Linked DNA regions of Homo sapiens: region 1 is linked to region 2. Evidence: fine-mapped expression QTL. A gene starts in region 2. The other region holds a variant in brackets. All regions are shown on one strand. Distances are from middle to middle.

Region 1 (2,913 bases), 670 kb after region 2:
GTGATGTATCTTCTTTTCTCCTAAGCATCTCCACGTGTCTCCCTTTCTGGTTATCCCTCATCTTTGAACAGGGGAGTTTCTGTCTGGATCATGATGTGTTGAAAAATAGGGTAGAGGCCAGGCGCGGTGGCTCACACCTGTAATTCCAGCACTTTGGGAGGCTGAAGTGAGTGGATCACAAGGTCAGGAGATTGAAACCATCCTGGTCAACATGGTGAAACCCCATCTCTACTAAAAAAAAATTAGCTGGGCGTGGTGGTGTGTGCCTGTAGTCCCCACTACTCAGGAGACTGAGGCAGGAGTATCGCTTGAACCCGGGAGGTGGAGGTTGCAGTGAGCCGAGATTGCGCCACTGCACTCCAGGCTGGGTGACAGAGCAAGACTCCGTCTCAAAAAAATAAAAAGGAAGAAAAAGAAAAATAGGGTAGAGCGGAGTGAGGAATGTGAGCAGGAGTCATCCCCAATGCCATTTCGGGTTGTTTTCTCAAACACCTGTCACCATGCTTCTTGGGCTCTATGCTATTATGTCTTTTCTCAGATACTAGAGTTCAGGACATTGGTGTGGCTCAAAACAACCTGCTTTACTCAGGTGCTCTGTGTTGTAATCTGATGATTCTAGTCCCTCCTCCTTCATCCCCCCTCACTAAGACAGACAGTTTGGGAAGATATAAAATGGTGTTGTCAGTCTGGCTCTTCCTTTAGCCACCTCCCTCTTGGTTCTGCCTTCTTGAGTGTCTTTCCCTATTGTCTCTAATTCTCCAGGGGTGTTCCCTATCCCCCAACAACCTATATCAGTTAAGATTAGAATTCAGCTTTAAGTGAGAGAAAGCCCCATATAATTGTAGCTTTATTTCTTTAGTCACACGTAAATGAAGTTTGGAAGCAGGCAGTTCAAGGCCATTGCTGTGCAGTCTCCTTTTAGCTTGTTGCTCTGCCAGGCTCAACATATATTCACCAACTATCCAAGATGGTTCCAGCCTTGTCAGCATGTTCACATTTCAGCCACCAGCAAGGAGCTCACCTTCTCTCCTTTTATTTTTGAGACAAGGTCTTGCCCTGTCACCCAGGCTGAAGCACAAAGGTACAATCATAGCTCACTGCATCCTTTAACTCCTAGGCTTAAGTGATCCTCCTGCCTCAGCCTCCCAAGTAGCCAGAGATACAGGTGCATACCAACATTACAGGTGCACCTGCCAATTTTATAAAACTTTTTGTAGAGACGGAGGTCTCACTAC[G/A]TTGCCCAGGCTGGCCTAAAATACCTGGGCTCAAGTGATTCTCCCACCTCAGCTTCCCAAAGTGCCGTTCCTTCCAATGGGTGTGTGAGGATGGGAATTTTGATTTTAAAAAGAAAAGGAGCCAGGATCTTTAAAATCAAAATTCCCATCCTCACACACCTGTTGGAAGGAACATAAAATGGTGCAACCAGTTTGGAAAACGGTTCTGGCAATTTCTCAAAATGTTAAACATAGAACCATATCACACAGAAATTTTACTCCTAGGTATACACTCAAGAGAAATGGAAACATATGTCCACACAGGACTCGTACAAATGTTCATAGCACCATTATTCAAAATGCAGAATATAATTTAACAACCAAAAGATATAAAATAATATACATGTGACAACATGGATGAATCTCAAACACATTATGCTAAGTGAAAGAAGCCATACATAAAAGACCACTTAGTACATGATTCTATTTATAGAAAATGTTCAGCATAGGCAAATCTATAGAGACAGAAAGTAGGCTCATGGTTGCCCAGGACTGGGACATTGGGGGATTTGGGAGATGGTGGATAAGGGGTGCCAAGTTTCTTTTGGGGATAATAAAAATTATCTTAAAATGTAGTGATAGTTGCTTAACTCTGAATATACTAAAAGCCATTGAATTGTACACTTTAAATGGTGGAATTGTGTGGTGTGTGAACTATATCTCAATAAAGCTATTAAAAAACGGCACACTTTCCATAATTTCACATGCCACTTTCACTTACATTCCATAGGCTAGAACTTATGGCCATGCCTATGTACAAGGGAAGCAGATAAATACAGTCTTTATCCCATCTAAAAACCATAGGTTCCATTACAATAGAGATAATGATATTGCAGAACAGTGGCCATGTCTGCCCCACCCTTAGTCAGACCTTAGACCTTGTCAGTCCACCCACAGAGGATCCTTGATGCGTTTCTCGGGAGCACGGCACTTCATCTTAGGGAAATTGATCTCTTTCCCAGAGTCTCTACAAGGATGTGTTGGCTCTGAATCCTCACATATTTTGGATCAAAATTCATTTCATTCAGCAGTCATCCTCCGTGGTTTTGTTTTATAACTTTTCTCCTGTTTATTGAAAGTAGAAGTTTCTTTTTTATTTTTTTGCTCTTGGCTTTCAGTTGGTTTCAAGAGTTGGAAGTGAATTCAAAATTCCCCTTTCCCACTATCTTTGCCTCGAATTTGCCAGAATAAATATTCTTGTGTTTTCTTTTTTCTTTTCTTTCTTTTTTTTTGGAACAAATTCTCACTCTGTCACCCAGACCGGAATGCAGTGGCACAGTCACAGCTCACTGCAGCCTCTACCTTCCAGGCTCAATCAATCCACCTGTCTCAGCCTCCCAAGTAGCTGGGGCTATAGGTGCACAACACTATGCCTGGCCAGTTTTTAAACTTTTTGTAGAGATGGAGCCCCACTATGTTGCCCAGGCTGGTCTCCAACTACAAGGCTTAAGCAATCTACCTACCTTGGCCTTCCGAAGTGCTGAGATTACAGGTGTGACCCATTGTTCCTAGCCCATGTTTTCTTCTAAACACAGCTTTGTAACCCTTCTGGGATTTCCCATACTTTCTGCACCTAATTTTTTGTGTTGTTTTGTTTTGGTTTTTTTGAGACAGAGTCTTGCTCTGTTGCTCAGGTTGA
Region 2 (2,913 bases):
TTTTTTTAACAAATGCTATGCACAGACAAAACGTTATCTATGAGAAACCTGATTCTGAGCGTCCTTCATGTCACACTCTGCTACAAAATGATTCCACCTTCTCTTTCCACAATTTCTAGTCCTTTTATTCTAAGTCTATTACCTAGCATAAGACTTTATCCTACCCATTTTCATCTCTCTGGCTGGTCTTTGCACGTGGCAAAATCCAAATGGAGAAAATAAGTGTCTGTGGGGCTTCAAACATCCAAATGATAGTGAGAAGAATAACAAATTCATCAGAGAGGGTTAGGGGTAAAAAATTTGAGAGGCACTCCAATATAAATCTTCTTGGCAGATGGGGAAACTGAGGCCCATGCTCTGAGCTGTCCAAGGTACAGAAGAGAATCACTTGAATCAAGAAATGAAGATAGGATGTGTGGAAAGTAAGCTTCTACCATCCATACTTCTCTCCACTCCTTTCCACCATCTCTACCCATTCCTACCACATCTGTGACGGCCAGAACCATCTCCCCAGACCCCCCGGGGGCAGCATTAACCTGTCTCAAAGCATTGTGTAACACCAGCAGATTTTTAAATCCTTAAGGGCAAAATCAAGCCTCAGTCTCCCCCTACAAAGCTTAATAAGGTGGCTGATTGATACTCGGTGGTCACTCAAATATTTACCGACTCAGAACAGAGCTTTCTAGCGTTAAAAGTTCTCCTTTACCCATTTCCTAGCAACCAGAACCCTAAGCCTATCAGGCTTCCTATTTTTCTACCTCTCTCTACAAGCTCCGGCAGCCTCATTTCTTAGGAGGATGCAGTATAAAGAAGGCAGAATGGGGAATCGGAAAGACTGAGTTTGTGTCTTGGCTGCTACACCTGGTTTGTGCGGCCTCGGACACATCGCCCCTTTCCAGGGACTCCACACCTGCATCTGTAAAATGGGCAGGTTTTAGGAAGCCTTCGTGGATCCAGCCTCCTCTCCGGCGCCGCCCTCTTCAGGCAGCGCCACACTGGGCCTCGGCTTCTCCCACAGTCTCCACGACCTGGGTTGGGTCCGCTCCACTCCCCGAGCTGCTCACACTCCAGAGCACTACATCCTTACCTCCCACTCCCAGGTTGACCTTGCGGGGGTCCGGATCCTCCCTGAAGTCGGCAGTGAGCTTGAAGACCAGGACAGGCTGGGCCTGCGGAACCTCGGCAAAGACTGACGGAGGTGCCATATCGAGAGACTAGGAATCAAGAGATTTCACCCCACGCCCGGAGCTGGCAGGTCAGGTCTGGCCGTTGCGACTGGAGGAGACACTCACCTTCACCTAGCCGGCGGGGGCGGGCCCGCGGCCTCCAATGGTCGAGCCGCGTCCAAAGCTTGGCAACGCGATTAACCAATCGCCAGCTTCTGACGACGAAGGCACAGGGGAGAAGGAACGCTATTAGCCAATCCAAGAAAACAATTTATCGGCTGCCGAGAATGATGCAACCAATGCAATTTCCTCCGGCTGAGGCGTGGGCGAAGACTACGGTTGATTGGTAGAGCGTGCTCCTATCGCAGAGGCTGTTATTCCTTGGGTCTCCCGGCTGAGGGGAGGAGCCGAGCGAGCGGCGGGTGTCCCTGAGAGGCCACCTTTCGACCTTCGAGGGCCAGGAGGATACGGGGAGGTGGCCGGAGGGAGTTCCCGAACACAGGTCTTCCTGTTCCCGCCGAGCAGGTGTTGGCGGTGCCAGGCCCGGCCTGGCGGGCCCGGGCTGGCAGCCAAATACCCAGCGTCTGTGCTCGGGACGGGAGTGTTCGTCCAGGACGTGCAGCTCCGGAGCCTGCGCGGGCGACCTTGACCACCTTTGTCGGCTGTTTCCCCCTGAGGGAAGTATACCTGTCCTGCCAGCCTTGGTCTCTGGCAGGGAAGGTCCTTCCAACAGAGAGGGGTGCGCACGAATTCCTTTTTGCCGCTCTTCTATTAATAGTTTGAGATTTTCCTCCCCGATTCCTTGCAGAGAGGGCCTGGTCCTCAAGGACCTCGGGATCTGGGCGCGACGTCCCTTCCCAGCTTCCTCCCGCGCGCACCGGACCAGATCTTGCTGTCGTCAGCTGGCTGGTACCCAAAGTTCCTCTTCGTCAGGCTGTTCCTTCCCCGTTAGAGTCCTTCCTCCCCAGGAGCCCTCTCCATCTGCTGACCTTCAAGACCCAGAGCGAATGCCACTTCATCCATGAAGCCTTCCCTTAACCCTTATCTGGCCAAAATGTCTCTTTCCTGTGCTTCTGTACTTTCACAATTTTAGAAAATGCCTTTGTGGTTAAAAACCTATCTCCGGGACCGGACTATCTAGGTTTAGATTCTGGCTGCCGCTTACGAATTTGGGCAGGTTTAGTCAAGTTATTTTAACCTCTCTGTGGAAGTTCCTGCTCTGTGGAAATAATAGTATTTTCCTCAGAGTTGGTGTGGGGAGTTTGTGAGTTAATACATTTACGAAGTGGTTAGTTGCATGTAAGAAGGACTCTCTAAATGTCAGCTATTATTAACATTGCATATCTGCCACACCCTTCATAGATGGTAAACTGCTTTTTTTTTTTTTTTTACTTTTATTTTAGGTTCGGGATACATGCACAGGTTTGTTTTATAGATAAATTGCTTGTCATGTGGGTTTGTTGTACAAATTATTTTGTCACCCAGATAGTAAGCATAGTACTTGACAGGTATTTTTTCTGATCCTCTCCCTCCTCCCACCCTCTAGCCTCAAGTAGGTCCCAGTGTCTGTTGTTCTCTTCTTTGTGTCCATGTGTTCTCAATGTTTAGCTCCCACTTACAAGTCAGAACATGCAGTATTTGGTTTTCTCTTCCGCATTAGTTCACTTAGGATAAAGGCCTCCAGCTCCATCCATGTTGCTACAAAGGACATGATCTCTTTCTTTTTTATGGCTGCATAGTAGTCCAT

Direction of the effects. Positions count from the first base shown, and alleles are read on the strand shown. Sizes are in standard deviations (SD) of each study's normalised expression.
For the expression in cerebellar hemisphere of the gene that starts at base 1,576 in region 2, allele A in region 1 goes with a lower level than allele G (moderate effect, 0.58 SD a copy in GTEx).

Evidence for each region. PIP is the estimated chance that this variant, and not a neighbour inherited with it, causes the effect. A credible set is the group of variants that fine-mapping cannot tell apart.
Region 1: its variant is the best candidate, but not a certain one, in a credible set for the expression of GOT1-DT in cerebellar hemisphere (GTEx, PIP 0.72).

What each region holds. Positions count from the first base shown.
Region 1 is chr10:100,097,263-100,100,175 of GRCh38, forward strand. No RefSeq gene overlaps it. Among named protein-coding and RNA genes, the nearest start is that of CPN1, 17 kb to the left of the region's middle. The variant G/A (reference allele first, on the strand shown) is at 1,236.
Region 2 is chr10:99,429,361-99,432,273 of GRCh38, forward strand. GOT1-DT (GOT1 divergent transcript) reads left to right here and starts at 1,576. Exons shown (of 5, transcript NR_183993.1): 1 at 1,576-1,905. It overlaps GOT1 (glutamic-oxaloacetic transaminase 1), which reads right to left and starts at 1,264. Exons shown (of 9, transcript NM_002079.3): 1 at 1,088-1,264. The coding sequence starts at 1,205. RefSeq lists enhancers at 1,105-1,164, 1,185-1,234, 1,415-1,844.